Regions from separate parts of the Homo sapiens genome. Here regions 2, 3 and 4 are each linked to region 1. Evidence: fine-mapped expression QTL. A gene starts in region 1. Each other region holds a variant in brackets. All regions are shown on one strand. Distances are from middle to middle.

Region 1 (8,000 bases):
CCCTCTGACAGTTGTTGATTTTGTAGTGCTTCTCTTTAATCTGGATTTTCAAAGTGGCTTGCCAATGAGCCAAGATTTCTGCCTGGGTCTCTCCCTCGGGGCGGTTTGACACAACCGTAGCTTCTGTGTGCTCCTTTCTCAATCTGAGTGGCCTGAGGACACAGGACACTGTGCTTTGGACAGAACAGGCGCCCTTTATGATTTAAACTAGCTCCTGCCAAGGAATTCCCTTGCCTAGATTCTATTAAAACTGGGTTCCCATTTCCCCTGACCATAGTTTTTTAACTCAGGCAGAGGACGGTGGTTCTGAGCTGTGCTGTGATTTCTAATAATAACCATTACCACCAAATTCTCATACCAGAGCATTTGGATACCCCTATGAGGTTCACTGTAATGGAATCTGCCTTCCTGTTGTGTTTTTACAGTAACGCCCCCATCCTGGTTAATTGCACCAGCCTTAGGAACCAGAGCAAGCCAACAGGCCCAAACATCACAGAAATAGGCCAGGCTAACAGCAAGCAATCATTTTAATAACAAATGAAAGCATAAACCACAGCACATACTGTACTTCTTCAGGTTACTGACAGGCATCTTCAGTGTGCAGTACGAGTGAGGGTGAGATGGAGTTTATATAAGTTTGTTCAGACCAGAATCATTGCTGCCTACTTGTAAGTCAAGGCTAAATCCTTAGAGCTGAGAAACAAGTGAGTTACTCTTAAAAGGTGAGTGTTTGTTTGTTTGTTTGTTTGTTTGCTTTGAGATGGAGTTTCGGAGTTTCGCTCTTGTTGCCCAGGCTAGAATGCAATGGCCCAATCTCAGCTCACTGCAACCTCCCCCTCCCAGATTCAAGCGATTCTCCTGCCTCGGCCTCCTGAGTAGCTGGAGTTACAGGAATGCACCATCACACTCGGCTAATTTTGTATTTTTAGTAGAGACGGGGTTTCTCCATGTTGATCAGGCTGGTCTCGAACTCCCAACCTCAAGTGATCTGCCTGCCTCAGCCTCCCAAAGTGCTGGGATTACAGGCATGAGCCACCATGCCTGGCCAAAAGGTGAGTTTTATAAAGACAGCTCACTTTCTTCCCCTTTAAATAATTCAAGCCAGTTCCCTACACTTTTACAAAATGTTGCTTAGTCACTTAAATATTTACTTTTTAAGATGACACTGTTACAACTCTGCAATAAAAATAATTTCTTAAGTAAGGGTCTGCTCTGAGCCCTGAAGCATTTCCAGATTCTTACTGATACTTTGTAGGTGGAAGAAAAAAAGCTCCTACCCCTGAAAGATACACCAAAAAGGAACAACTGCACACAGTGACAATAAGGACATGTTTCCTGGATGCTAGAACTAAGCCACATCACCACTAGCCCTAGAAATACTTTTCCAGCAGTCTGTAATCACAGATTTATTCTAATGAACTAACCACTTTTGGGTCACCAAAGATGAGCCAGGCCGGTCCTGGGAGTGTCTAGCAAGCATCATTTAAAGTCATAATGATGAAAACTAAATCTCGCTTATTTTAGCTCCTTGCCACTGGGCTGTCCAATTGGCACTGAGTTGACACAGCAGTTAAATTCAACCTCAAAGCAGCAAGAAGGCAGGCACTTCACTGTCCTGGTGGGAAGAGCCAGGCAGGGGCCTGTGGAGGGCACCGTTTTAGATGGGCCTTTCCAACCCTCCCTTAACATTCATTTGTGCAAACAAAAAATGGAAGAAAAGGAACCAAAATTAAGTTTCAGGTGGTTGGGGAAGCAGCATGGATTTACATTATTATTATTATTATTATTATTATTATTATTATTATTATTATTGAATAGTTAGCAAGTGTTTCTCAATAGTTCCCTGTTCATCAACACTGTTTTCAGGAGAAATGGAAAACAGTAGCTCTATTTCATAGAAAGTACAGCCATTTCAAAAAAAAAAAAAAAAGTGGGGGGGGGTTGTTGAGAGAGGGAAGTGACCCATGTCATAAAGACAGAAGGTCTCCAAGTCACTTAATTCCTTGTGATTCTGAAAGGGCTGTTTTTAAAGTCTAAAAGTGCTCGCTTCTGCATCTGCTCCATGTTGTTAAATAACACTTGTGTAATTAAATAAAAGAGCCAACTGTGACCCCAGCCCACTCTGAGAGGCACTTTACATGCTTTCTGAAAACTATGCTGGAAACACCATGAGGAGAACTCCTTAGTCCTGTAATTTAGCAAAGGGAGAGAGAAAAAGTTTCTTTTGGCCATCATAGCTACACACTCTCTGAAAGGGTGCCTGCAGGGTCTCTGCAAAACAGAATGAACACAAATACAGGCGTGCAAACATCCAGGTATGTACCTCTCTGTGAAGACCCCATTCTTGAAACCCTTCAATTATTTGGAACCGTGGTCTCCTGACTTCCCTCACACCTCACTTTTGCCTTCATTGTTTTTCATGTTTGAGTAGCAAGAGGGATTCAGAATCTCAGGCTGCCAGTGGCTGTTCTGATAACAAGGAGCAGACTCATGTTTCTTGCTACGGCCTTTCTTGATCAGGTTACCTTGGAAGGTGTATGTTTTCCTACCCAATGCAGTCCCCACCACAGCACTCTCGTGTCCTCCTCCAGCCCAGCCTCCTGGAACTCGTGATTTTCAGGGTTTCCCTTGAAACCTATCCAGAAACCACAGCCATTAACTGAACGTGAAGATTTGACACCTCCTGAATTCAGGAATGAGGGAACTCGAGGGGCCAACTCTACAAACTCGCACCTGCTGCTTGACGGCAAGGAAACAGAGTTTCCCCAGCTAGGGTGAGCTTTAAATTATACACTATTTATTTAGTGACTTGTCTCCAAGGATCTCAAAGCATAGAGAGAAATAAGATGATGTGTAACTTTCTCACAATCTACCTTCAAGGCTTTGCCCTGGTGCATTCTGACAAGCAGGACCCAGTATGAAGGAGAGGCCTTCCTTCTGTGCCCAGGCAGAGCCATCTGTTCTCTCTGGGGTTTTCTGTCAGTGGCTTTAGGGAGTCTTCAAGGACTGTTAAATGACACAGAGGGTGGGGGGAGGGATGACCCTCCTGGATTCACCTGCTCACGGCTTTCACTTAAGCCAGTTTAACACAGGAGGTACCACTGTGCCACGCAATTCCCTCTTAGCACACACCATGCGTGAGCTGCAGTCTTTGCCCTCCAGGCCTTTTCCTATCATAACACAGGTGTGTCCAAGGCAGAAAAGAACATTTTCCAGAAGGTTCGTTTCCCTCCAAGCCTACAATGCTTCTTTTTGTTGTTATTGTTTTTCTGCTACTGACCTAAACATAGGCATTCCTCCTCCTAACAGGATAAAAATCTTGACTCTCTCCTTTGCATCAGCTCCCCACCCCGCCCCTGCCCAAGGAAATAAATGCTCTGACTTTTCCAAGAGTGCGAAAAAACTAAAATTAGAGGGTGGACAAGATGATCTCCAAAGGTGCCCTCCAGCTCCAAAACTCTGATTCTCCCTTTAATTACTCCACAAGCGCATTCTTCACATTGTTTCGAACTGACCAGCGACTTCTCCAGGGCTGAAAAGGGTGCATTTTTAGGCGGAGGCACCCAAACTTCTAAATGACACCAGTACCACAAGTATTCAGAAGGCAGGAACTAATCCAAAAGCAGACTCAGGAAAGGAGGAGGGAGGGGAGGACAGAGGGAAGGGAAGGAAGGAGGAAGGAAGAGCTTTACTGTGTGCCCAGCAGAATTTAGGCGCTCTCACCCTAGGTAGGTGGCAACTGGAGTCTGGGAGTTCAAGTGCATCCAGCCTGCCCTTCCCCCACACGCCCCAAGAGAATGGGAAGTTCAGCCAAGACTCGCAGCACCTGCCCGCGGCTCCAGGCCGGCTGCGCGGACCCGGAGGGAGGCTGCACTCACCTGGCACACCAAGCCTCCGCGCACCTCCGGAGGGAGGCGGCACTTGCAGGTCCGGGGGCCGCGCCGCCATGCGCAACAACGGGAAATTCCAGTGGCACCCGAGCCCCGAGCTCACCCACCCCAGGCGGCATGCTCCCCACCTCCCGCTGGCCCCAGGACTCGGAGGTGGCTCTGGTCAGGAGCAGGGGGCCCGGAGACAGGGGAGGGGAGCTCATGGTGGCGGCAGGGCTGGCGGTCGGCCCGTCCCCGGAGGGAGGTCCCCGGGACGCGGCGGGGATTCACCCACGGGGCGCGGCGCTGGCGTCCGGGTCCCCGGCCTGCCCGCCGCCGCCGCCTCCTCCTCTGCCGCCGCCCGCCCGGAATCGCTTTATGTAAATGAAGCCCAACTCGCAGTTTGCAGCGCGCACCGCCCGGGGAAGGGGGGCGGGCGGGGCGGGGGGCCTTCGGGGATCCACATTACACAGCAACAAAGCGGAAGGTTAATTTGAAACTCACAGCCCCGCTGCCGCTCGGCTCCCCGGGCAAAGCCTGACATCTACAGTCGTGCCGGGCGCAGGCCGGGTTGCTCGGCGGCGACCGCGCCCGCCCGCCCGCAGGGACCCGGGGACGCACAGGGACGCGCGGGACCCGGGCGCTCAGCTGCGCTCGCTCCGCTTGGGGCGCGGGCCTTGGGGCAGGCCGGGGGTCCCGCGCACCCGCCTGGGGCCAGGAACCCTCGCCGCTCGGCCTGCGCCGCCCCGGGAACCGGCCCCGGCGGGAACAAAGCCCAGGCCCTCCCGGAGGCGCTGACCCCTCGCTCATCAAAGGTCAGGGGCCGGCCTAGAATCGGGCGAGAAGAAAGGGACGCGCCCTCGGCCACTAAAAGGAGCCTGAGGCCTCCGAACCGGAGCCATCGCTCCCTGGGCCCCGTCCACGTCACAGCCAGGCCACTCAAGCATGGGGACAGGAGCCAATGTGGACAGGAATTTATTGGAAACACACACCCATCCTATTAACTGCTTTACAGAGCACTTCTGTTTTTCAGTTGCAGAAACTTATAAAAACATCCCCCTGCTCTCCGTTGAGAGTTTAAGGATAGTTTTTGAGGCCAGAGAAAGAGAAAAGGAGAGATCACTAGAAAGATAGGAAGAAAAGAAGTGGGAAGAAAAGGAGATGCAGTCTACCATGTAAGCCTCCAGGCTCCTTAGCCTCACCTTATAAAGCCACATCACCGCAGAGATAGCAAAGATCGTGCCCTTTCCCAGGGAGTTCCTACCGCCAGGGTAAGATTTAAAGCGGCCACCCCAGTTGGTCAAAGTGATTGCTGGGCGCCTTTCTATCTCCCCAAGTTCACCTTTTCCAGTTGGTCAAAGCGATTGCTGGGCGCCTTCTATCTCCCCAAGTCCACCTTTTTCCATTCTCATCTGAAAGCCAGCCCCAAAGAAATCTCACCGGAAGTCCTCTGTCCTCCCTGTCAGAATCCCACCCTCAGTCTGAATTTACTCCCGATTCTCACAGCACAGAAAGGCACCTGCTTTTACCCTTTCTGAAAACCACCCACCCAGGCTGGCCTTACAGCCTGGAGAGTCTTTTCCTCGGGCACAATAATGAACCATGCAAGTGTTAGAAATATAATCAGCTCATGAGGCGAAGAGCAGTATGTATGGAATTGTATTAGCATGAGGCACACACTGACTCGGGAGAAAAAGGGATGCTTAGCTGGTGAAAACCATCACATCCCCGTATAGAAGGCTTTTTGCACAATGTAAGTTGGGTTCAGATTAATGTAAGTATCTAACCTGTTGGGTACAGACAGCCCCTTTCTACATTTTAGTCCAGAATAGATTCTGGGGAAATTTATTTATTTATTTATTTATTTCAGCTAAGGCCCTGGGAGAAAAGACTGCCTCCAGGGAATCATGTCCGATTAGGGACAAAGGAGGGCACAAGCCCAATTCAGTCACACGTGAGAGCACGGGGGCCGGGTGGGGGGAGTTAAGAGCCAACAGGGAAGGTGGAGGATGAGTTTGCAAACCAGACTATGGTCACTGCAGAGCTGCTTCCAGACCACCTGACTTCAGGCCCAAGAACAGGTGGTGTTTTCAAAACACACTGTTATTTATATTGGCCATATAAGTTGAGAACACCTTAAAGAAAACAATTAATAATTTAATTGAAAAAGTGACTATGAATAAGACATGAAGATGACGTATGCTAGCAGGACCGCAAGCAACGTGGCCCACAACGCAGAGATGCCTCTGGCAATCTCTCCGGAAAAACGAAGATTCCTTACCTGGGATAGGTAAGGCCTGCTGGATAAATTAAAGACAACAAGAAAATGTTGATACTCTCAGAAAATCTAATTTTGCTGCTTTATCTTCATTTTTATTAACAGGGGACAACCTCGTAATCTGGTGACATCATGATCCTGGTAGGCCCACAGACAAATACCTTCAATAAAATAAAAGCTAGAAAGCCCAAAGAACAAGCTATTAAAGTAACCTGGGAGGATGCAGCACTGCCTGGGCAGAAGGCCCGGACGGGATCTGCCCTAATACTGCCACTGTCCCAAGAGGCAGACCCTGCAACCTGCCTCCTGCACTTGAGAGGCCTGACAAGTAGAACTGAGAGTGACCCTGAGTTCCTTTTCTTTATCTGGCACCAGCTACACACATGATGAGGCCTAGTCAAGCCTGCCTTTGTTCCAGGCAAAAATTTAACAGGTAATCCACAGGCAGGTGATCTATGGCCTCTGTACATTATGGAAATGAGGGACTACACACAAGCTGGGTGTCACCTCTACTAAAACTCATTTTCCTTATTCATAAAAACAATACCTCTTCAGAGGGAATTGGCAACTTCTGCACTTACATATGAAATCAGGAGTTCCTCTGAAATACTCCTTGCAAATTCTATCCTCCAGCTCTGGAAGCCCTGGCTCTTCGGAGGGCAGCTGCCTGATGTTAAACCCATGGCCTACCCAGCAGTGACAGCCTGACATTCTCATCGCTCCATCCTGAACACTGCTGACAAATAAACCCACTCTCAGAAAAGGCAATTCTTCCCTCGCAGTTCTCCATACCCAGTCTCGTCTCATCTGGAAAGCGTAATTGGCAACAGCCGAAAGGATAAATATTTAAAAATAAATCAGGGAGCGCTAACCCCTTCCCTACTCCTCCCCTTACCCACTCTCCAAGCCAGAGGCCTGCCCCCTAACGCTGAGCTGGCTGGTAAATTACAATGATTCTACCGAGCCAAACCTGCTTGTCTCTCTCTTTCTCTACACATACACACTTACTAATGCTGTATCCTTCCACTTTTGCAAAGGTAAATATGATCTCTAAGATACAGTGGATGTCAGCATTCTGACTTCCAGCGTAACCTGGGCTCTCTTTTCACAGTACAGCGGGTTTAGACAGATTTGTGCACCCTTCCGGGTTCTTCTATTTTTATTAAATTATACGTATACATTGATTTTTAAAACTAGTGCTTAAATAACCCGGAGGCTTTAACAAAGAAAAATCCAGAAGAGGGCAAGAAACAAAAACAAACGTTCCTGAAATAAACAAGGAACCATTTGGAGCTGAATTGGCCTGAGTTCACCCCATGATTTTGAGGCAGTTATATTTAGGGGCCTGGTACCCGCTGGGTGGCCGAGCCCTCCTGGGTATGGAACAGAATGCAGAAGTTCCTCAGAACAGCTCACATTTGCCTTCATAACCATTGGAAGCTGGTGTGCCAAGGCCTGCACACAGATGTTTTGATTCACATTTTTCTGCTGAAGCCTCAAGGCCTCCATCCATCCCTACAGTGCTAATTCCATAGATTAATTTTTACCCCCAAATCGTAGGTGGAACATTATCTAATTTCCTTACCCACCCTCCCCAGCTCAGGTGCTAAATCTGTCAATGATATCCCACAACAAAGATACAAATGAGTAACCATTTTTTAAAAGCTGTGATTTCGGAGAGTTTTTCTAAATTAATTTTAAGTTACAAAGCCCCAAGTTTTAAGAAAGCCAAAATACAGAAGTTGCCTTAAAACAGCTTTACATGTTAGGTAAAGAGCTCTCTCTCTCTTTCTCGCTCCTTCTTTTTTAAACAAAAATATTATTTCTGAAAGGGCAAAGGGAATTTGCCATGC
Region 2 (8,000 bases), 69 kb before region 1:
GGGACACTCAACAAAGCAGTAATGGCCACTGTAAGGTAGAGACATTGGTAAAGGCATGAAAAGGGGATGCCTACTGCAAAAGCAAAATCGTACACGGGGTCTTCCCCATGCCTTGACTGGGCACCCTCGAGAGACCCCTTTGGGATGTGCGTACTAAGCTTCCACCCAACTTCCTATCTGGTGGAGGCATGCTATGCACAGAGACCCCATCACTGAATTCCCTCCTAGATAACTCACTGCACTAGACTGAAGGCTTGAGAGGTTTATTTCATCATGAGTAGTCCTCAAATCCTAGAGGCCCAGAGAGTTGCTCCTATCTCGATTCTCTTTCTTAGGGTAAAGTGAACCGGCAGCAAGAACTACCACCAGGACGCAAGGGCTTTGAGACAGACTGAAGGGGGCATGGATTCTGCTGGCACTCTGAGTTTGTTTGAAAGACTTCCAAATTCCAAAGCTTAAAACCCTATCAGGGCCAGGTGTGGTGGCTCATACCTGTAATCCCAGCACTTTGGGAGGCCGAGGTGGGCGGATCACTGGAGGTCAGGAGTTCAAGACAAGCCTGGCCAACATAGTGAAACACCCTCTATACTAAAAATACAAAACTTAGCCGGGCATGGTGGCAGGCGCCTGTGATCCCAGCTAACTCAGGAGGCTGAGGCAGCAGAATCACTTGAACCCGGGAGGCAGAAGTTGCAGTGAGCTGATCGTGCCACTGCACTCCAGTCTGGAAGACAGAGTGAGACTCTGTCTCAAACAAAATAAAATACAATACAATCAGGAGAGAGGGGTGTACAGGGGGAAGAGAGGGGATCATGAAACGTGATCACATGTCCCCTTCTTCATGGCCCCTTCTCCATCCCACATGGTAATTACAAAGCCCATTATTTGCACTGTTACTTTTAATCAAGAAATCCATATTGAGACATACTTACCACTGGCCACTTCAAAGAGCGGCCCTGATAGTTAGCTAAAATAACAAAGGAAAATTTCTTCTTGAAGTGTAAGGATCCAAGAGCTCACACTTCCTTAACCTTCCAGAAGCCACCCAGAGAACCAAGTGACTGTGGGCAATAATTACACCCTCACCAACTCAGCAAAAATGGCACAGATGGTCTTTCTCCTCTTGCTGCTCCCAATGCTGCGTTTGGGTCAACAGCTGCTAAGAAGAACCACCAAGGCCACGTTAAATAGTACTTGGATTAATTATGCTTGAAAATCTCTTATCTGAGCACTGCTAAGACAGAACAATTGAGTTTGGGAATGAGTGTGGTTACATATTTTTCCTTAATGGCTTCCTGAACACCCTGGTTAGGTCTGGTCCCAGGGGAGAAATTGCCAGCTCAAGTCATAAAATGTGATCAATGTAGATCAAGACCCTGTGCTAAGTGTCTAGGATGAAAGAGGGGAAGCGTATTTGTGCAAACACACAAACATATGAAAAATGCATGTTAACATAAAGAACTTCAGCTTTCTTTCTGAAGCTGCACCCTCTCTCCTTTCATGCCTAGAGCTCTGCTCATTCCACCAAAACTTCCAGCCAGCAGTTCTAATCTTGGACAGCGCCAGAACAAATTTTGGCAACTGTTCCTGCAGTTCCAAAAGATTCCCATGTTAAGCCATGGTAAGATTCGGGGAATCAAATCTGGATGGTGAATGGGGCCAATTTCTTTGACTTCAATAACACAGAGGCTACTGGGGTTCCAGCCCCAGTGGTCATAGTTTTAAGCTCCTCTGCATAATACTTATCCAACTACTCACTGGTTGTTCTAATGATTTTTATTCATTCGTGCCACAATATTTATTGAGTGCCTACAACATACACAGCGCGTCCCTCCTGTCGATACAGACTCCTACGAGCTTGCTCTCAGTAGCGTCCAGGCAGGCAAAGGAAGGAACTGGAAGGCAGTGATCAGGACCCCGGTAGAAATGGACTCAGCACTCCACGTGGCCACTGGGATTCACTATGTCAACACAATTATCTGGGTTACTGCTCGCCTCATTCCAGAGTCTACCTGCTCTGATGCCAGAATCTGTCCTTCTATTAACAAGGTGTGGTCACAGTGAACTGACTGAGGTCCACTGTGTTTAAAAACACTGACCATGGCATCTCATGGCTGGACAAGTGGCACCGCCGCCCTGAGACCCTGCAGTGCTGGGGAACCCGGAGGCCCTGAGACCTCGGTTCAACTCCGCCAGTGCCCCGGGAGTTCTAACCCCCACGGGGGTCTCGCCTTCAGTCCACATGGGAGTCACCCATCAAAGGCATTTTAGGGATATTTTAGGTTGACCATTTCCTGACAGCCCAACATGTTTTTCTCTGGGATGAAGGGCATGCCATCCCACAAATGGTGATGAGAAATTGCAGAACCACTGAACCGGCCTACACATAAGCATTTCTTCTCCTTTGATGTCGAGTTGACAAGAAAGGATATGATTTCATTTCTACTGGCTCCTCTTAGGTAACCCAACTGGTTTCCCACTTCCTCACCTGCCCTTTGCATTCCCATCCTGGTTTCTTTGGCCTTGGTTCCTCTTTAAGCTGGGACCAGCGACTTTATAAACTCCACACACAGTGCAGCAGGTTCCAGACGCAGCGTCTGGCCTCCCCAGGTCTTATGAAGAGGTGCTGAGGGTTGGCGGGTTGACACACTCACTGCACTGCACAAGGAGGTGGCTCAGCCCAGCTTTCACGTGACCAGTGTCCATTTATAGGGTCGCATGCTCACGACACATGCTGCATTATGGGGAATGCTGCAGAGAGGGGAGTCTTATTCTTAAAGGAGTTAGAATTGAAGCATAAAGTCTAGGAACTAACATGAACCACCTCTTAGAAGTCTATGTACAACCTGCACTCGACTTTGAGTTGTTCCCCAACTATTAGTTCCCTGTCGTGGGTCAGTGGGGGGAAAAAAATCACTCTCCACACAGCTCTTGAGGAGAGGCTGGGATCTCTACGATTCACTTGGTGTCTACCTGCAGGGGACTCAGGGAAAAAAAAAGCAAAAGCCACACCAGCATGAGCATATCACACAGAAATTCTACTGACCCCAAAAGCGGGGCAATGAAAATCTGTGCACAATTTCAAACCATGCACCCCAGGGTGGAGGGGAGAGATGGAATTCAGGGGAAGTGAGAAGAAAAAGGGGAAGAAGAAAAGGACCAGGGATTTTTTTTCTTTTTTCTTTTTTTTTTGAGACAGAGTCTCACTCTTGTTGCCCAGGCTGGAGTGCAGTGGCACGATCTCGGCTCACTGCAACCTCCGCCTCCCAGGTTCAAGCAACTCTCCTGCCTCAGCCTCCTGAGTAGCTGGGACCACAGGCGCACACCACCATGCCCAGCTAATTTTTGTATTTTTAGTAGAAACGGGGTTTCACCATGTTGGCCAGGATGGTCTCAAACTCCTGACCTCAGGTGACCTGCCCGCCTCATCCTCCCAGAGTGCTGGGATTACAGGCGTGAGCCACCGCACCCAGCCTGGGATTTTTTTTCTTTCTAAGGAACTCTTTCCCGAGCATTCACGACCCAGCCCTTTCTGCTCTGGGATGGAAAGTGTTACTCAGCTACAAGGCCTCTTG[T/C]TAATTGTGGGTTTTTATTTTTATTTCCTATTACCCTCTCACACGCCTGATGAGATTATTTTACCGGAACTGACACAGCTGGAAGCAGCAGGCATACGTGGAGCCTCTGAGGAGGTGATGCAATTTCATTTTCATTGATCAGAAATCAGCAGGGCAGTAAGTGATGGGAAATTCCATTAGAAGAAAACTTGCAGGCCATAAGCCTCAACTTCCCAGCCACACCCAGGACCCCTTCCCCCACTCCCTGACCGAGGTCTCGCCTTCCTCTGGGCTAAGTCCACACTGCCCAGAGGATTGGAAGTGCTCTCCTCCCAGAAAAATAAAAGACCAGCGCCACGCTGCTGGCCTAGGAGAGCATCGGCCGGGGGTGGGAGACATCGTTGGACTCTGAACCAACAAGGCACCTCGGTGCTTCTCTATGGATTACAGCAAAGTCTTCCAGGGATGCAGAATAAACATCCTTACAACCAATCTCCACAGCCCCTTGGGATCCCCTTCCAAATGTCAACAAACAAGAAAAGGGGAGGCCACTATACAACAGTTGTAAAGATGTCCTCCAGCCAGTCATAGAGATGATCCTGAAGGCACTTACCATTTATTGAGTGCCTACTATGTGCCAGGCACTGTGCTAGGTGCTTACCATGCCCAGACTCTGGTCCTCACCTAACCCTCTAGGACAGATGTTCTTCTCCCTCTCTCTCCTGGATAGATGAAGAGGCAGAGGTCTAGGAAGGTAAAGGAGAGAACCAGTTGGTACCAACACCTTCCTGAGGGTCAGGCCAAACTCTCACAAGCAGCAAAGGAAAGCTGAGTGTCAACAGGAGAGCTCACACCTGAGTCCTAAGAGAGCGTGGAGCACATGTGATGGGCTACTTTACTCTTTTACAGATGTAGCAGATGATAGATTGTGACTAATCCACCTCCATCATCCTCAGCACCCAACAACAGCGCTCCTGTGTCCAAGGCTGGAACCACAGGTGGGCTTCTCTTCGGAATACGCAGAATGGTTACTGTTTTAGCAGTTAAGATCCCTCCAACTGTTTGCCTGCCAAATATTGCTTTGCTTACCTAAGGCCTATGGAAAAAACAGCAAGGAGCTCCTCAAAAAGACAAGTTCTATGAAAAACACCACCAGCCAGGTGGCTCTCCAGACCTCCACAGGCCATTTCGCCATAGGAAAGATGGATCACAGAAGAACCAGGGCACAGTCCGAAATTAACACTGCTCCCCACAACTCTTCACTGTTAAAATGGAAATTTTACATGGACCAGTGATGGCAATGTGTCCAACCAAAATCTCTCAGGAAGCTTTTATTGAGTACCTAATCTGTGCCTCAACAAAGCAAAGAATATATAAGACATGGACCCCGAAATCAATGCGCTTACAGACTAGGTGATGGCCCCATAAGAATACCTAGCACACAGTTATTTATTGATCCTGTTTACAATATACAATACAACATCATAGCATAAATTGAGGCCCGGGCAAAAGAAGAAAGAAAAAACAAAACTGGAGGAAATTTTGAACCAAAAAAATCAAGCTTAAAATGCATGTAAGAATAACCTACACACTGAGTCAAATTTGGCTCTAAGCTTTCTAAAAGTCAAGAGGATAAAGGCATGCTAGGTATGCTTTTAAAGGTACACTATTTACAATGTCCAAGAGAAAAAAAAATCAATTGGTCAGGATTATTTAGCTCCAGTAATTTCTCAACTGCTGAGAATGGGATAAGACTAGGTGCAAGTAGGGCGTGCAGCCCTATTTCCCGGATCTCTTTGTGGAGGTAATAATGAGAAGGCTTGAGTGTGAGGCCAGCTAGTCTCACTGTTTCCACTGATAGACAAGAATACTGACCCCACAGGGTGTTGGTGGTTTGCTGACGTCAGAGAGCCGGTCAGTGGCAGAGCTAGGACGAAGACCTGGGTATCTTCACACCACACTAACAGTGCCTTCCTCCCACATGAAGCTACTCCGCATCATCCTTTTAAATCCACAGGCTGGCTGGATGGGTAGGGGCTCACATGGACGTTGGGGAAGGAGGAGAACTGTTCTAGATTAAAGGGGACCTAAGAACCAAACAACAGCTAGATGCGCTATGTAGTTTCGTATGGATGCCAGTTCTAACCAGCCAAATGTAAAAAGCCATTTTGGGGACAATCAGATAAGTCTGAATTGCAACTTGGGATTAGATCATGTTAATAATGTCAGTTTTGGCCAGGGGCAGTGGCTCAAACCTCAAGTATCAGCACTTTGGGAGGCTGAGACGGGCAGATTGCTTGAGCCCAGGAGTCTGAGACCAGCCCGGGCAACAAGGTGAAACCCCATCACTACCAAAAGTTAAAAAAAAAAAAACAAAAACAGCTGGGTGCAGTGGTGTGCGCCTGTAGTCCCAGCTACTTGATTGCTTGAGACCAGGGAGGTCAAGGCTGCAATGAGCTGTGATCGCACCACTGTACTCTAGCTTGGGCCACAGAGTGAGACCTTGTCTCAAAAAAAGTCAGTTTTGTTAGGGAATAATATTATGTTTACATAAGAAAATGATGAAGCAGCATGATATCGTTGGCTTCAAAATATTTCAGCAACGGACAAAAAAGACGGAACAAATCTAGCCAAAAGTTCATTGTTAAGTCAAGGTGATAGAACTATGGAAGGGTTCATTATATCATTCTTTCTACTTTTATACAGTAATTTTTTTTTTCCTTAAAAGTTACCATTCGCTATCAGGAACATCTTCTAAAAGAACAGCATTGACCAGAACCAAGAGATTCAGTCTTGAGTCAATACGTTCATGGCAAGCCAAGCCTTTTTTCAAAGAAATGTGGGTTTCTCCTTTCTTCCGAAGGGCTTTCCTCCCAGGCCGGGCCCCAGCTATCTCTAAAGCTCCTTTCAAACACCACCATCTACTGACCCCCACTCTTACTCCTTCTCTTAGAAGGTACCAAGCACCACCAGGCTGCTAATGTTTAAAAGAACACAGAAAAAGACAATATGCATCACGCCTGGGCATAGCACCTGACAGCCTTTATAAGTGGTAGCTATCACGATCATTACTGAGCAAAAATGCGCCTGTTTACAAAAGTTAACAGCCTAAGGTTATATAACAGCTTGATTTCAAGCTTTGAGCCAAAGTCTGATTAAGAAGAATATACATCCGTTGAATTAAAAGCCTCCACTTCTTGACTCAACGGGTTAAGAAAATATTTTTAACACTTTCAGTGAGTTTAAAAAATCAGATGTTTACCAGCCATTGTTTTTGCGCACACTGTCTTTTATCTCAGCATGAATGTTTTATAAGCACCTTAATTGCTTTGCAAAGCCTCAACTGAACTGCTCCCAATTGGGCTGGTTCTCTAGTGTGGCTCTGTAGGTAAACGGCCCAGTGGTAAGTGGGCTTCTGGCCATATGTGGGCCCATACCCACCCCCAACATCCAGCACACCCTCCAACTTCAATACGCATCACCATGCTGCAAGCTCCCCAGAAGCACTCTGTGCAATGGACTTCTTCACGGGGACCCCAATATGTGACCAAGGGCACAGTCACACCCAGCACCAGCCTTCCAAAGGGCACATAACAATGCTTCTTCCATGCACACAGCGTTTTACACATTTTCCTTTTTTTTTTTTTTTTTTTTCCTGAGATGGAGTCTCGCTCTGTCATCCAGGCTGGAATGCAGTGGCGCCATCTCGGCTCACTGCAACCTCCACCTCCCGGGTTCAAGCGATTCTCCTGCTTCAGCCTCCTGAGTAGCTGGGATTACACGCACCTACCACCATGCCCGGCTAATTTCTGTATTTTTAGTAGAGACAGGGTTTCACCATGTTGGCCAGGCTGGTCTTGAACTCCTGACCTCAGGTGATCTGCCCGCCTTGGCCTCCCAAAGCGCTGTGATTACAGGAGTGAGCCACAGCGCCCAGCCTTTCTACACATTTTCAAACACTCTCATTTGACCTCTAACAATCTTTTTAAATAGAATGGGAATCATATTTTCGATTTTACAGGTTTAAAAAAATAATTCATTCAAACATCTGAGTGACTCCTACGAGTCATTCTTTCTCAAGGTCCTGCAACTGGTTAGCTGCAGAGCAAGGACCAGGACACAAGCTACAGTTTCTACTGTGGTGCTCTTGGCTCCATGAAGGCATCATTTCCTTAAAGAGAATCACCAACTCACAGAGAAACAAGAAGAATAAAGACAGAAACCTACCTGCTGCATGCCTAAGCTTCCAAATCCTTCCAAAACATGTATCATCTAAATACGAGAAAAAGATAGGATGCCAAAGACCCAAAGGAGGTATTTTCATTGATCACACCTCAGTGGAGTAGAGTTATACACACCACCAAATATTGAGTTGCTCCACACAGACCAGAACAGTGATGGCAAGACATTAAGTCGTAAATTTTTACATAGGCCAGAATGGTGGAG
Region 3 (8,000 bases), 57 kb before region 1:
TAACACGACGAAAACAAAACCCCACCTCTACGAAAAACACAAAAATTAGCAAGGTGTGGTGGCGAGCACCTGTAGCCCCAGTTACTCGGGAGACTGAGGTGGGAGAATCACCAGAGTCCAGGAGGCTGAGGCTGCAGTGAGTTGTGGGAGCTGTGATCCAGCCACTACACGCCAGCCTGGGCAACAAAGTGAGATCCTGTCTCAACACAAAACAAAGAACTCAAGTTTTAAGGAGAATTCAGTAGTCATTCCATCAGCAGCTAGAAGGCAAGCACCCATCCCTCACTCAACTCTCATAGCAGCTAAGAATATTTTACCTGTAATAGACTTCTACAGCACTAGGCCTTCAAAACAACATTTGCAATTGAAGGGACACCACTTTGAGAGCTGACAGGCCAAAGTAAGATGATGTGGAGGCTGCTTCCACCTCCCACCCTCCCCGATCAAAGCATGGAGAAATCATTCACCAGTGCTCCTGGTCTCCGTTGCCACTGCCACCTCAGTTTAGGTAGAGGGACCTCTACCTGCCCTATTTTCTTCCCATTCAGCTGCAACCAGCAGCTCTGGGAGGTCATTGCCCCCACACTGTGCCTGTGTACACATGTATGCTTCAATGGTGTGGACCAGTACAGACATGCAGCTCCTTTATAGACATCTGGTTCTGCCCCACCTACTCCCAAACACACAGAAATCAGAACACTGGAGCCAGTTTTATGTAGAGTATCATTCGTTTGCCAAAGACCTTGCCATGAACTCATGGATACCACAGCATGGCTGGAAGGGATGCACCAGGGATTCCTTTAACCTGGCTACCTGCTCTTAGAGGAACTATTTGGCAACCAGGAATGGCCGGAGGGAATCTGAGGCTTCCCTAGGACTGCCTTTCATGAATCACCTGCTCCTAGGCAAAGTGGCAAAGGACAGACAAACGCCACCTACTGAACTCCAAGCTGGACGCCCTATTCATTCACATATGCTCACGGGGCCCATGTTAACAAACACCTCCCTGGATTTGATACCAAAAGAAAGTTTAATATTATATGTGGCTAATTCTGCTGTTACCTTTTAACCTCACTTGCACATATCTGTCCTCCCAACAATAACTTCAGCAAAAAACATACCCTAAGAACAATATGGTCCACACTTGGAAACCCGCCCAACAGGGCCAGTCGAGCCTGCATAAGTGCTAAGAACCATTTAGGAGCACTGTAAACCATTAAGGCCATTAGCTCTAATTTGACCTCCACAAAATACATCAACCCACTAGGAACAAATTTAGAAGCTTTCCAAAGTCAAGTTCTCAAAACCTGAAAGGCTCATAAGCACAGTCTAGGGCAGGGAACAGCCAGCCAGTCCCGGAGCTACTCTTCCCGCTCCCACCTTTCCTGCAGCTGACTGAAGGGTGCATGCTTAGCTGGTACACGGACCCAAGATCCTTCTCCAGCCACTGGATCAGGAAGCTGTGGCCATCGAGGGGTCGATATGCAGGCTGGAACCCGCCAAACATTTCTGATTAAGGGATTCACTCCAGCCTTCCTCTGAGCTCACACCATATACAATCTTCCCTCTGCACTGCTCTAAATCACTTCTTTTCAAATAACGCGGATTTCTGGATTCATTTCCAAGTGATCCTGATTGGAATTCAATTGCACTAACTGGGTCCCTGCAACAGGTCAGGGTTCACCCAGTCTTTCAATCTATAAAGGCAGGTATCATGTACATTAAGAGCCATGATTCCCCCACATTAATACATGTGTCAACACAATAAATAATTTCTCCAACAAAACTTATAACCATCAGCATATGCTATAAATTTAAATTGCAAAATCATCATAATTTTTCATCTTTATTCTTCACTGATAATTACTGACTGCATTTTTTAATACTGATGGCATCATCTTGATGAGGAAGCAGGCAATGAAATAAACTACGGTACTGGCTAGGCACAGAGATCACACTTACAATTCCAGCACTTTGGGAGGCCAAAGTGGGAGGATCACAGGAGCCCCTGAGTTTGAGACCAGCCTGGACAACATAGGGAGACCCCATCTCTACAAAAAATACAAATATTAGTAGGAAGTGGTGGTGCACACCTGTGGTCTCAGCTAAGAGAGGCCAAGGCAAGAGGATCACTTAGCCCAGAAGTTTGAGGCTGCGGTGAGCCAAGATCACATCACTGCACTCTTGGCCTGGGCAAGACAGCAAGACGCTGTCTCAAATTAAAAAAAAAAAAAAATTAAAACAGAGCCAGGTGCGGCTGTTCATGACTATAATACCAGCACCTTGGGAGGCCGAAGCGGGTGGATCACCTGAGGTCAGGAGTTTGAGACCAGCCAGGCCAAGGTGAAACCCTGTCTCTACTAAAAATACAAATATTAGCCAGGCGTGGTGCTGCATGACAGTAATCCAAGATACTCAGGAGGCTGAGGCAGGAGAATTGCTTGAACCCAGGAGGTGGAAGTTGCAGTGGGCCAAGATTGTGTCACTGCACTCCAGCCTGGGCGACAGACACTCTGTCTCAAAAAAAAAAAAAAGAAACCATGGCACTATCAAACTCCACCAGCCAATGCGAGAAGCAGGCTAAGAACACGCATACTAGGTAAGTGGACAGTGCACATGGATAAGTCAACAATCCTTCAGTTGCTTCAATGACAAAAACATACCACATACTTATTTCACTCATCTTTCCAGGGCAGAAGGAAGAAATAAGTGGGAAGAATATGGGCCAAATGAGTTAGCAGTAACAGGAGAAGCAAGATGCAGCACACAGAGTTCTACAGCCCAGGAAGAATTGCCAAAAGCTGAGTAATCCATTCCAGCTCCACCCTGCATGAATTTCCAGGTATCAAATTATATGTTAATTATGCGGACGCAGAGTTATATGTGGGGAAGTGGTGTTAGTCAGCACCCAAGGGGTGGAAATTCAGTAAAAATTTAGTTTTGTCAAGTATGTTTCATGCACAGGCCTGGGGCTCCTCTGGCTCAGGAAAAGAGAAAGCAGGAGTCAGGAGGCCCAGACCTTTCCCTAACAGGGTCCCACAGCCAATTCGCTGGCCCTCTCTAGACCAACTTTCCCGAATTATAAAATACCACAAGGTTTGGGTTTTTTTCCCCCCACCGTTTCTGTTCAAATCAAAAAGCGCTAAGTCCTGGCTGATTTCTGACTCAGCCAGTCAAAAGAGGGACACGCCTCCCTAACTGCAGGAGGGTGGGGAAGGGCAGCTGCACTCAGTCCGATGGAGGGGAAACCAGTAAACCCGTCCCTTGGCACTGTCACTTGGCAATTTCTGAGGTTTAAGACGACACGGCGTTCTCCCAGGTCCTGGCCTGTAAATGCCAGGGAAACGCATTGTACTTGTGAAGAGAGAGAACACAGAGTTTCGAAACTGCTCTAAAGCCCATGTCTCAGGCTGCAAGAA[C/T]GTTATCAGTCTCACACATCGTGCCCCTGCCTCCAAGGCCCCCATCACCACATACTGATCTTGCCCTGATTTGAAGCGGGCGGGAGAGAGCTATGGGGAAGTCCAGGCCTGTCCCAGCCACGGATGGGACAAACAGACAGGAACTGAGTGCTGAAGACCTTGCTGTAGCTGCTGAGCGATCTTAAAAGGGATCCACCCTGGAGGAGCTGAGCACCCTCTTCTTTCCAGTTCTCCTCACTTTAAACGATTTTTGTCTAATAATGTACCCAACAGGCAGATATCAGAGAAGCACTAAACTAACACCTTGAAATGGGTCAATAATGGCTGGGCGCAGTGGCTCATGCCTGTAATCCCAGTACTCTGAGAGTCCGAGGCAGGTGGATCACTCGAGGCCAGGACTTCGAGACCAGCCTGAGCAACATGGCGAAACCCTGCCACTACTAAAATACAAAAATTAGCCGGGTGTGGCGGCACATGCCTGTAATCCCAGCTACTCGAGAGGCTGAGGTACAAGAATCGCTTAAACTCGGGAGGCGGAGGTTGCAGTGAACCAAGATCGCGTCACTGCACTCCAGCCTGGGTGACAGAGTGAGACCCTGTCTCAAAAAATAAAATTAAAAAAAAAAAAAGAGAGAGAAATGGGTTAATGACAAAGAAGTCCTATACACAGCATAGTATGTACTGTATAGCATTAGGATAATATAGTATAGCAGTCCCTTATCCGAGGCTTCATCTTCCATGACCTCAGTTACCCACATTACAGTACAGTAAGATATTCTGAGAGAGAGGAGAGACCATATTCCCATAACTGTCATTACAGGATATTGTTTTAATTGTTCTATTTTATTATTAGTTATCACTGTTAATCTCTTACTGTGCCTAATTTATAAATTAAATTTTATCATAGGCATGTAGGTAGAGAAAAAAACATAGTCTACCTAGGGTTTGATACTATCCTCCCTCTCAGACATTCCACTAAGTGTCTTGGAATGTCTCCCCAAGGATAAAGAGGGACTGCTGTCGTGGCTAGGAGTATATGCTCTGAGCTGGCATCCCAGCGCAGAGGCCATTTAACAGCAGCAAATTTGCTACAGACTTTGGGCCTCAAGTTCATCACTCATATGATGGGTGTAGGATCATCTTTACCCCATAGGGTTGTAAGGATTAATGAGACAGTGAAGTATTTAGCACAGTAGATGCTTAATAGGGGTTAGCTATTAATGCTTATATTAATATTTATTAACATTTATACAGACAAAGAACATGTTCTCATGTCATTTGCATAGCAATCCAACAAAGGCCGTATTCTCACTTTTGAGGCTCAGAGAAGCAGAGAGACTTGTCCATGGTCACACACAAGTACTCAGACTTCCAGGCCAGTGTCTTTTCCATCATCTTTTTTCAGGGTGTTTCACCCACGCAACACTGGCCAGGGGCTAGATGGTTCCAGGTGGGAGTGGGTGAACTTTGTACATTCTGGTCATTAGCCAGTCAATGTTTATCTGAGCCAATCCAACCAGCACGAGCCTGTGATTCCTCAGACACAATTGCTCGGGATGATGCTAAGGTGGGTATTTGTGGTTATAACGGAGGATCCCGTGAAAAGAAAAATGTAAAGCAAATAATACAGTATAGGCAGTACAAAGAAACAACAGAAATGATGCCCTGAGTTGGGGGCAGAGGGGTCTCTTCCACTCTCAGAGGCTGTCGCCGAACTGATCTTTCTCACATAGTCAACCATTAAAAGTCCCCAACCCACAGGTCCTAGTTTCTTCTAAGTATCCATCTCCCTCCTTGCTAGAGCAGAGCCTCCAAAATGAAAGCGTTTCTCCGCCTTCCTCCAGGCCTCCTGAGAAAGGTTATGAGATGGGTTATCAGCCTCTCTGACCTCTGCAGCCATCAACAGCACTTCTGCCTCTCCCATCCCCCACAGCGAGGATCCTACAGCCCAGAGCCAGCTTCCCTGCCTTCCCCCATTAATGCCTTTCCCCTCCAACAGCTATCACAAGAGGGCTGTTTAGTGAGAGGACCTCCGGCTGACCTTTGCTGACAGGCTCCAAGCTCTCCCTGTAAACGGATCTAATGTGAGGCTGGGTAATTAGCAACCAAGTAGTAATTGCAGCTTCTAACTATGCTCGGCCAAGATTGCAAAAATTCCCTAGGGGGGTGCCTCCTAGGGATCCCAACCCACACAAAGGCATTTACTCACAGCCAAAAGAGGGGACTCAGCCACATTTCTCATGGAGGCCAGCACTTCTCTAGGTCTTAATTAAAGTGGCACCCATGTAAAGAGACAGACAGCAAAAGGAAATTAGCAAATAAAGGAGACTGACCAAGAAAGAAATGTATGGCTTGCTTGGAACAGCCCATTCAGAAAGGTACAACCTCTCAAGGTGGATGGCCGTGCACACGAAACTCATTCCAGCCGCGGAAGGAAGGCACCAAAGAGCCTTCGAGGGGCATCAAAAACTGCAGAAAGGCCAGGCGCGATGGCCCCTGCCTATAATCCTAGCACTCTGGGAGGCTGAGACGGGTGGATCACCTGAGGTCAGGAGTTTGAGACCAGCCTGGCCAACATGGTGAGACCCCATCTCTACTAAAAATAGAAAAATTAGCCGGGCATGGCGCTAGGCGCCTGTAATCCCAGCTACTCCCAGGCTGAGGCAGGAGAATCGCTTGAACCTGGGAGGTGGAGGCTGTGGTGAGCCGAGATCGCACCACTGCACCCCAGCCTGGGTGACAGAGCTAGTCTCCATCTCAAACAAACAAACAAAAAAAACAAGAACTGCAAAAAGGCAGGACACATGAAGACAGGTCCCCCGGCCTGGCTGGCCAGCCTGGCTGCCTGCTCCTATCACCCACTCAACCAAAATCACTCCTCACCCAAGCACCCTGTATGGCCCACTGTTCGCATCACAAGATTCTAGATGCCAGGCCATGTGGTCTATGCTAAGAGATCCGTAGTATCATCTGCTATGATTTGGTGATTCCACCAGACCTGTCCACAGGCCCCCCTACCGTTAGCTGCCTACATGTATTAACATGTTTCAGAATAACGTGCAAAATCCCCATTGAGAAATAAAGATGTGAGCACTTCCAAATAGAGCAGCTGCCCTCCTCATGACTCTAAAAATACCTAAAACTGCACAAAAAAGAACATTGTCAGACGAAAAGAATCATCCCTCCTCACTCTAACAGGACAACAAGCGATGCCCAACAGCACAGCAGCGCCTGTTTCATCCTTCCTAAGAAAACCCTTTATTTTTCAAGCCCACCACTCCCCACTCCAATTTCCTTTATCTGTTTTGTACTTAAAAAGTCACTTCACTGAACTGCTGTTTGCTCACGATAACTCCTGAACCTCTGTCCTCAGGAGAGGCGGCAAGTTCAGGGGGCATGGTAGCTTTCCCACGTGGACCAGACTTTCTGCCAACCTGAATTACACCCTAGACGTCTTCAAACTTCATTTCCTCTGCCACTGTGCTGCCCGATCCCCCAATGCATTCGGGGCTGTAGAGACTCTCTGGGTTGAATCCAGTTATAAAAACCAGGGTAGCAGCAGCCGAGTGCACTAATTCACCCTCCATTTCCTTCTCCAAACAATTAATATACTTAATAACTCCAGCCCCGACGACAGATTTCTCAGACACCCCTCTATTAACCTCTCCCCGCTACAAGCAGTGGGTCTCCACCAGAATTCTTCTGTTCCCTATCACTTAATCATTTTTTAATCCACAACAAGGACTTTGTGCCACACTGTGGTTTTGTTCTCTCTTAATCTTTTATAAGGGACCTTATCAAAAGCTTTTAGAAAATACAAGTGAATTTTGCCTACCAGGTCATCTTTATTATTTTAGAATTCTTTATGAAGAAATTATAGACTTTAACATTGTAAATGAATATTTAAGACTCAGCATTCACTTAGACATGCAAGTCTGGCTCAGGTTATATTTAAGTCGCTGTATTACTTCCACCTTCAGAAGGATTCTTGTCTGCCTCCTGGGATGGAATGACTTCCCCTCCCCAAGCCCCCAGGTGCCATTTCTGGGATTCCCCCAAGACTTTCTGGACCAGCTGAAATTGAGTCCATATTGAGTACCAATGGGACTTAGAGTGCATTAACAGAACCTCAAACCAAGGAACAAAAGTCATCGAGCCAAGGGGGCCTGGCTATGGCAGCCTATCCGACTCCTACCTCCTCTACCTTTCCCCAGGTGGATGGCAGGGAGCAGCAGGCTCCCCTGCCTCACAGCTGGCCCGCACATCTGCAGGGAGCCAATGACAGCTTCTTGATGTTGACATCACTTAGGCTGCCTCCTAACACTTGTTTGTTGTAGCTATTATTTCTAATTAGCACTTCTCAACAGAACCAGTGCTCAGCACCAAGGTTCCTCCTGACGGAACAATTAAAGAGGCACAAGGGGCGGGGGTGTTTCCTAAAATTATTCTCTTGGCAGGTTTCAAGGTAAATCATCTAGTCAAATGCACATCTCTTCAAGAGCTGCCTGTGGACAGGGTTGAAAAGCTGTAGCAATATTCCGGAACCCCTGTTTGAAAGCATTCCCATCAAGTTAAATGAAG
Region 4 (8,000 bases), 82 kb after region 1:
AGCCTGTAGATGGCCTATTGTGGGAAGCTGTGATCGTGTGAGTTAATACTTAATAAACTCCCATATATATATATGTGTGTATATATGTATATATATATGCATATATATACACACACACACATATCTATTCCATTAGTTCTGTCCCTCTAGAGAACCCTAATACCGTACCATTATTATCCCACTTCACAGATGAGAAATTGAGGCAAAGAGAAGTTAGATAACTCAGTCAAGGTCATACAGTAATAAGAAATGGAGCCAGGATTTGAACCAATTTCAAAGAGGGTGTGGGACACAGCATTTGTTTCTTAGGCACATAGCTGAAAAATGCACAGAGAGGAAGCAGTGAGTCATCCACAGGGACTAGTATGGGGTTTGTGCTAGAGAATGGGGAAAGACAGAGAATGGGGAGAGAGCCAAGGACCAGAATGATGGGTGGAGGAATTTGTCCTCCATTCTGGGAGGCTCTGGGAAGCCACTGAGGACTTCAGAGAAGAGAAAGGCAATCACAGCGGGGCACCAGGAAATTTATCCGTGTGCAAGGCCAAACTAACAAAGCAGGGAGCAACTGGAAGCCAGGCAATCAGCGAGAGGATACTGCAGAGGTCCAAGCACTAGGTGATGAGGGCTTGAATGAGGATGATAGCAGCCTAGATGGAGGGAAGAGACAAGGGCATTGCGCTGCTAGGGGAAGCACAACAGGACTTGGGGACTGAAGTACTGGATGTGTCAAGCGGGGACTGAAGAAACAGAAACAGATGGGAGGTTTGGGAGCCACGTGATAGGTGAATGATAGTATTAGATGTATCATTCAGCCACACTTAGGGTACACGTTGGAAAAAAAGTGTACGTCAGCCAGTCTTGTGTGTTCTTTGGTTGCAGTGCACATGTTAATAAGTTGTACCACTCCCACACACTGCAGTCAGTTGCGAAATAGCAATCTATTTTGCAATATCAGCTCCTGGTAAATTTCACTTGTGAGCCTGGAACAAGGATGGGGGTGGATTCAAGGACCGCCCCCTGAGGTGGTGAGAAGACCAGGGATTGCAGGACATTGTGAGATTCTTTCTGGGGCAGCTGGAAGGATGCTTGGTTGCCCAGCGACAATCCTGCCTCCGCAGCAGTCTTGGTTTCCTGCAGTCCCGGATGCATCTCATTAAAAGGACAGAGGGATGGATGGCCGACACATTTTCTGAAGTGGCATTTTCAACGTCCTGAGTCCTGGTATCTTGTTTATAAGTGGCACTTACAAAATACAAGGGAAAGAAAAAGAAAACGGGAGAGGAAGAAAGGTCTCCTAGGATCTCAAGCATGCAGTGCGTGGATCTTGACTCTCCAATTTCAGCTTGTCTAAGAGACGGGGTGCAGGGCCTCCTTGAAATCCACCTGAAATGAATTAGCCTGAAGTAAAAGTAGGTGTTTATCTCAAGTCATTGCCTCAAATAGCTGACTACCTGTTGGAAGAAGGGTCTGATCGATGCAAACCAGAGCAGTCGTGCGTGAGCTGTTACACAGCGGTTAGTATCGATCAGAGCTAAAGGCTGCCGATAGGAATGTGGAGGAAACTGACAGGCAGAGAAGAGGGAAGAAGGAAACAGCCTTCGCTGGTGGCAGCCGTACAGAGGAAAGCCGATAAAAAGTCAATTCCACTTAACTGAATGGCTGCTAACTAAATATTTTTGGGGCCAGAGCCTTCCCAGGTAGTAGCTGGAGCATCTCTGTTCCGGAACTGAGACATCAAGCGAGAGCCGGGCATCGACAGGCAAGATCACTGGTCCCTGGTGATGGATGGGGGAAGAAGAGAGCCCCTGAATGCAGAGATGGGAGGCTTTGGGCTCAGCCGAGCTGACTGGGGCACTTGAGGACAGCCACTGACCACGGAGCACTGCTGGCAGGCAAGAAAGGAACAGGGTGCAGACTGGATGTTATGGAACAGTTGCTGATTAATTAGTTCATTTAAAACCCCGATGCTTTTTCCTGAACCTCACTCAGTAAGGGCTGTTGAAACTAATGGCTGCAGAGAAAGTTGGACAATGCCTGGTCCTATCACAGACAGAAGCAGAATGGTGCCATATAGTGTAGTTAAGAGACTGGCTGATGACTTATTTTCCTGAACTTTTATGCCCTCGGAAGGATTGTAATTCTTTTTCTTGAATTAGATGTGAACATGTAACTTGTTTGGCCAATGAAATGTGAATAGAAGTGATGCATGTCCCTGCTGGGTAGAAGCATTTAATTACTGGTGTACAACCTTCCTGTTCTTTGCTTGCCACTGTGATCCTGCATACTAGTGTTGATATGGATAAGAGTGAAACTATCTGGAATGTTAAGCAAATGGATGCATAGTTTTCCAAAACTGCAATGAATTTTGTGTGAATAAGGAATAAACTTCTATTGTGTCACATCACTTAATTTTTGGCCTTGTTTGTTACCCAGCATAACTGAACTTTTTCTGACTGATACAGGGGGGCTGGGTTTTAGAATCCTGTCTCTACCAGTTGTTACTATTTGGGTGATTTGGTCTATTTCTTAATCCACCCAAATCTTGTTTTATTTATATACAGCACATGAAAACAGCAACAACAACAAATTACCATGTGCTGAATGTTCACAGGTGCAGGCACGGCAAAAGCTCTGCATATATTAACTTGATTAATTCTCAAAGCAACCATGTGAAGAAACTATTCTTGTCTTAATTTTACAATCATGAAACCTAGTGCTCAGAGAGGTTGAAAGAATTCCCCATGGTCACACAGCTTATAAATGACAGGCAGGAATGCAAACCCAGGCAGACCAACTCCAGAGCACTTTTTCTTAACCATTTTCCTATACTGGCTCTCAGCTTGGGTACTTAATAAATAACAGGTACTATAAGCCCAGGAACAAATGACACTGACTGACCCATACTCAAGCACTCTATATGGAAGGAGAAGAAGAAAAGGTTGCATTTCTTTTGATCTTTTACCATTTTATACTCCCTATTCTCTTACAAGCCTCTGTAGAGTTTGATCCTGTCTGAAACATCCTTCTCCGCTTGTTCCCCAAATCCTGGTTGTTTCTGAAAGTCCAGATCAATTCCCCACTCATTTGTGATACAAACAAGGGAATTCCTTAGCATTAGAAGAGACCATCAGAGAATACCTTTTGGAAGAGTTTCTCATCTATATAACGGGGATGGTAACACTCACCTCATGTGGTTGTTGGAGTAATGGTCATGTTTTATCAATTGAACCCCAAAGAGATCCTGGGGAGAAAGGGGCATTACACTGAGCAAGTGCCTACTTACTTTGTGCTAAGTCTCTCCTTAAACCTTCCCCACACTCTTCCAAAGGGGATAACACTGACCCCAGATGACCGGTGGAGAAACTGAGCCTTAAAGAGTTGAAGTGGGCCTGGTGCGGAGGGGCACACCTGTAATTCCAGCACTTTGGGAGGCTGAAGTGGGCAGATCACTTGAGGTCGGGAGTTTCTAAGACCAGCCTGGCCAACACGGCGAAATCCCGTCTCTACTAAAAATACAAAAATTAGCCAGGCGTGGTGGTGGGTTCCTGTAATCCCAGCTACTCAGGAGGCTGAGGCATGAGAATCGCTTGAGCCTGGGAGGTGGAGGTTGCAGTGAGCCAAAATTGCACCACTGCACTCCAGCCTGGGTGGCAGAGACTCTGACACACACACACACACACACACACACACACACACAGAATTGAAGTGATATCTAGTGTCAGTCTCTATTTTCTCTGAGCCCATGAGACCATTTCACAATTTTGAGGTGTAACAGCCTTCTATGTACCTTAATTAGGAGATCGTCTTTGCCCTCTGCTTGTCAAATGCTGGTTGCTTGAGAAATGCATTCCGTTTACTGATATATCAACGTATTGAGGTGTAGTGTGTGCGTGTGTGTGCATGCAGATGTGTGCGTGTGTGCGTGTGCGTGTGTGCAT[G/A]TATGTGTGCCCACGCCTGTGTGCATGTGTGCGCGCATGTGCATGTGTGTGCATGTGTATGTGTGTGTGTGTGTGTGTGTGTGTATGCCCACTCGCCAATGTCTGTGCTCATGCTCCTTTCAACCGATATTTTGGGTATGGGCTAAGGAGAGTGTGCTCAGGCTATTTTAAGTTTTGTACTTAACGCTTAGCAATTTTAATAAACTTCATTCCTTTAGGTAGTCGACTTAATATTTTAAATATGGTTTTAATTAACCATCCTCCTTGTGTTTAAGGCAAAAGCAGGAAAACAGGGAAAGCGTCTAACCCGAGAGCATTGCCAGTGATTCCACTCTTTGTGACAATGAAGGCCAGAATTCCAGAATGCAGAGGCGAAAGCTCTCCCAAAATTGTTTCTTAGGGCATGGACCTATAATACTTAAATCATTTCTAATTCCACTGGGTTCTGTTATCCCAGCACAGACTGTAAACATTTATTTTTGGGCTTTCCCAGAAATGTGTCTTATGGAAGGGATTAGCTGTTTGCGCATGTAAAGTTCCGAAGGTGAGCTCCTCTAACCTAACCCACGTAATTAAAGTGGAAAATTTTTGGTGGAGGGAAAAAAAAAAACATCAGGGAAAATACCATGTTTGGAAAGAGAGCTGTACTCCGACAGTCTCAAGAGATGGCTCTGCGTTCTTGGGCACTTAATTATATCCCATCTTGCTGTGTGCTCCAATGCTTTCATCCTTTTGGTCTTTACAGACAATACCAGGATCCCTGGCACCATACACTCTTCTCCGAGAGGGTCTACAATGTCTAGCTTTGCACTGAGGCAGTAGGCAACTTGAGGACAAGGAGAGTGACACTGGCGTGGAGCCAGAGACTGGGTTTGCCCTATCATTTTAAAACATGATGTTCATTACTTTTTAAAGTGTGGAGTATATAGGGAAGAAAATAACAACAAAACAAAACAATAGTTTGTTTTTAAGATGGAGTCTTGCTCTGTCTCTGAGGCTGGAGTGCAATGGAGGTGATCTCAGCTCACGGCAACCTCCGCTGCCCGGGTTCAAGGGATTCTCCTGCCTCAACCTCCCAAGTAGCTGGGATTACAGGCACCTGCCACCAAGCCTGGCTAATTTTTGTATTTTTAGTAGAGACAGGGTTTCGCCATGTTGGCCAGGCTGGTCTCGAACTCCTGACCTCAGGTGATCCACCTGCCTCGGCCTCCCAAAGTGCTGGGATCACAGGGGTGAGCCAACACGCTGGGCCCAGACAGTCTTATTTTAAAATGCAAATGGCTAGGGGCACTATAAGACATTTGTCACCAACCTCTATGCAACTGCCGCTTTGTGCCTGAGCTGGTGGCGCTGGTTCTGGAGTTAGACCCCCTGGGCTCCAATCCAGGTCCTGTCCCTTGCTGGCTCTTGTTAACTTCTTTGTGTCTCAGCTTCTCTATCTGTAAAGTGGGAGTAATAATAGGACTTGTTTTCTAGGGTTGACATGAGAATTCAATGAAAGAACATATGAAAATACCATGAGCACAAGTCAACGCACAGCATTACATAGCAGGACCTGCAAAAGGTCAGCTACTATGCCTGTTATATATAATGAATGCCTAAATATAAATCATTTAAAAAAAACAACTGCCTTTGTGAAGTACTTAATAAACGCAATTCATGGTCCAGAGTGCTTTATGTACATGACTCATACAATCTTTCATTCAACCCTATGGAAGTAGGTTCTAGTAAGAATCCATTTCACAGAGGAGGAAATGAAAAAGCAAAATGTAACTTGTCCAAGGTCATTCAGCTAGCTCAAGCTGGGCTTTGAGGGCACGTCTGATTCTTCCTACTGGACCAGCTAAGTCAGACAGGGTACTTTTAAGAGGGGAACACAGAGAGACAGAGAGACTTTAGGACCCAGAGATACTAGTCAAAGTGTGAGCTGACACAGTGAGCCTCACAGGGTGGGAGGGATATCCAGAGGAGAGGGCGAAAGCATCAAAGGAGCTTTGCCTTTACCTGATTTTGCCTGGGGCCAGTACAAGATCTGATTTCTTTTGTGGTCTCCAATGTTGCCTGCAGCAGGGAGTTACGAAAAGCCACTGGATCCGAGTCCTAAAACTAGGTACTGTATTCCAGTTCTACCACACATTCTATGATCTCGGCAACTCACATTCCTTTCCCAGCAAGTTGCATTTTCTGGGAAATGGGGATCAAAAATCTTGGCTCACCTACCTCCTGGAGCTGTTGTGAGGCTCACATGTTTGGGGATGTTTAACTGCTCGGTTAACTAGAAAGCACTGCACAGAGATGCTAGGTATTATTATTGGCTTGATGCCTCCCTGTGATGCAAGAGGGATGAGGGTCCGGTGCAGTGGCTCACACCTGTAATCCCAGTGCTTTAGGAGACCGAGGTGGGAAGATTGCTTGAGGCCAGGAGTTCAAGACCAGCCTGGGCAACATAGTGAAACCCCATCTCTACAAAAATTTAAAAATTAGCCCCATGAGGTGGCACACAACTGTAGTCCCAGCTACTCCGGAGGCTGATGTCAGAGGATCACTTGAGCCCAGGAGAATGAAGCTACAGTGAGCTTTGATTGTATCACTGCACTCTAGCCTGGGTGACAGAGCAAGACTCTGTCTCAAAAAAAAGAGTGGAGAGGGGATGCACTTGGTCCTTTAAAACTTTGATTTAGAGAGGACCCAAACTTGTGCCTCCCTGGAGAAAACTTTATGGTGTCAGAGATCCTGGGATTGTCTGGAATCAATTCAAGAAGAGGGAAGGAGACTGGGAGCCTCGTGGATGAAGGTATTATGATAGCAGGTTTCAGGAACACGCCGTAATCAGCTCTCTCTTCTCTGTAGTTCCACTCCTAGCAATTTGGGGCCAGCTGGGGACTGGATGATGTCCTCTCTGATGCATTGGAATTTGTCCTGCTTCATGGTCTGGTCTGCTATAGGACCACATATCACACAGAGACACAAAGCAATTGACAGCATCCCGGCCGTTTCTTACAGATCCCATATCCTGTGTCTAGGCTGTATTTCAGGCCAACTTTTAGTGAAGTGGATCAATGCTTGAAGCACATAATGTAACATGATTCTTCAAGGGTTTGATTAATCGTGTCACAGTCACAGCCTCAGTTCAGGTTCAACCTTTTAAAAGTTTTATTATTGTATAAAGTGATCAATCAGGAGGAGAGGGAAGACAAATGCTCGATGTTGGCCATCTCTCCCTCTCGTCTTCGTCAGCAAGTGTTCTTCTCCTGGTCGGTTTGGCCGATCGTGATGGAGAAATTCATGAAGATGCATGGCACAGCAAAATATGGATCACCAAAGAGTGCTCTGAGTGGAAGGCCAGCTGCTCCAGTGATGAGCAACCTTGGCAACACATGGGAGGCCCCTGGGGTGTTTTAAGAAGTTCAGAGCCCTGTATTTCACCCACAGAAGTTCTGATGCTTTTGGTCTAGGGCATGGTCTGGGCATCTCTTGGGAATTCTAATGTGTAACTGAGTGTTACGGTGGAATTATGTCCATAACCCCCAGTATCCCAGAATGTGACTGTATTTAGAGATAAGACCTTTAAAGAGGTAATTCGGGGCTGGGCGTGGTGGCTTACGCCAGTAATCCCAGCACTTTGGGAGGCTGAGGTGGGTGGATCACCTGAAGTCAGGAGTTCAAGACCAGCCTGGCCAACATGGTGAAACCCCGTCTCTACTAAAAATACAAAAATTAGCCAGGTGTGGTGGCGAGTGCCTGTAGTCCCAGCTACTCGGGAGGCTGAGGCGGGAGAATTACTTGAGACTCTGTCTCAAAAAAAAAAGAGGTCATTAGGGTAAATTGAGGGCATATGGGTGGACCCTAATCCAATAAGACTGGTGTCCTTTTAAGAAGAGGAGATTCGGACACAGACACATAGAGCAAAGACCATGTGAACACTCTGGAGGAAGATGGCCAGCTATAAGCCAAGACGAGAGGCCTCAGAAGAAACCAGTCCTGCCAACACCTTGATCTTGGGCTTCTGGCCTGCAGAATTATGAGAAAATAAATTTCTGTCATTGAAGCCACCTAATTTGT

Alleles and levels. Positions count from the first base shown, and alleles are read on the strand shown. Sizes are in standard deviations (SD) of each study's normalised expression. Not every link is listed here.
For the expression in monocytes after LPS of the gene that starts at base 4,255 in region 1, T is the low allele of the variant in region 2 and C is the other (moderate effect, 0.61 SD a copy in Quach 2016).

What was found.
Region 2: its variant is fine-mapped to the expression of ZFHX3 in monocytes after LPS (Quach 2016, PIP 0.95). The same link has a PIP of 0.9 or more in monocytes after Pam3CSK4 and monocytes after R848.
Region 3: its variant is fine-mapped to the expression of ZFHX3 in fibroblasts (GTEx, PIP above 0.99). The same link has a PIP of 0.9 or more in sun-exposed skin and unexposed skin.
Region 4: its variant is fine-mapped to the expression of ZFHX3 in whole blood (TOPMed, PIP above 0.99).

The regions. Positions count from the first base shown.
Region 1 is chr16:73,043,874-73,051,873 of GRCh38, forward strand. It overlaps ZFHX3 (zinc finger homeobox 3), which reads right to left and starts at 4,255. Exons shown (of 10, transcript NM_006885.4): 1 at 3,879-4,255. LOC124903719 (a long non-coding RNA gene) reads left to right here and starts at 3,705. Exons shown (of 2, transcript XR_007065116.1): 1 at 3,705-3,927; 2 at 6,253-6,915. RefSeq lists enhancers at 685-1,185, 3,549-4,084, 4,621-5,156 and a silencer at 3,846-4,695.
Region 2 is chr16:72,974,690-72,982,689 of GRCh38, forward strand. All of the region lies in intron 1 of ZFHX3 (zinc finger homeobox 3), which reads right to left. Among named protein-coding and RNA genes, the nearest start is that of ZFHX3, 69 kb to the right of the region's middle. The variant T/C (reference allele first, on the strand shown) is at 3,576.
Region 3 is chr16:72,986,958-72,994,957 of GRCh38, forward strand. The region is part of intron 1 of ZFHX3 (zinc finger homeobox 3); the gene reads right to left. Among named protein-coding and RNA genes, the nearest start is that of ZFHX3, 57 kb to the right of the region's middle. The variant C/T (reference allele first, on the strand shown) is at 3,420.
Region 4 is chr16:73,125,718-73,133,717 of GRCh38, forward strand. It overlaps a transcript of ZFHX3 not described here. Among named protein-coding and RNA genes, the nearest start is that of HCCAT5, 37 kb to the left of the region's middle. The variant G/A (reference allele first, on the strand shown) is at 3,939.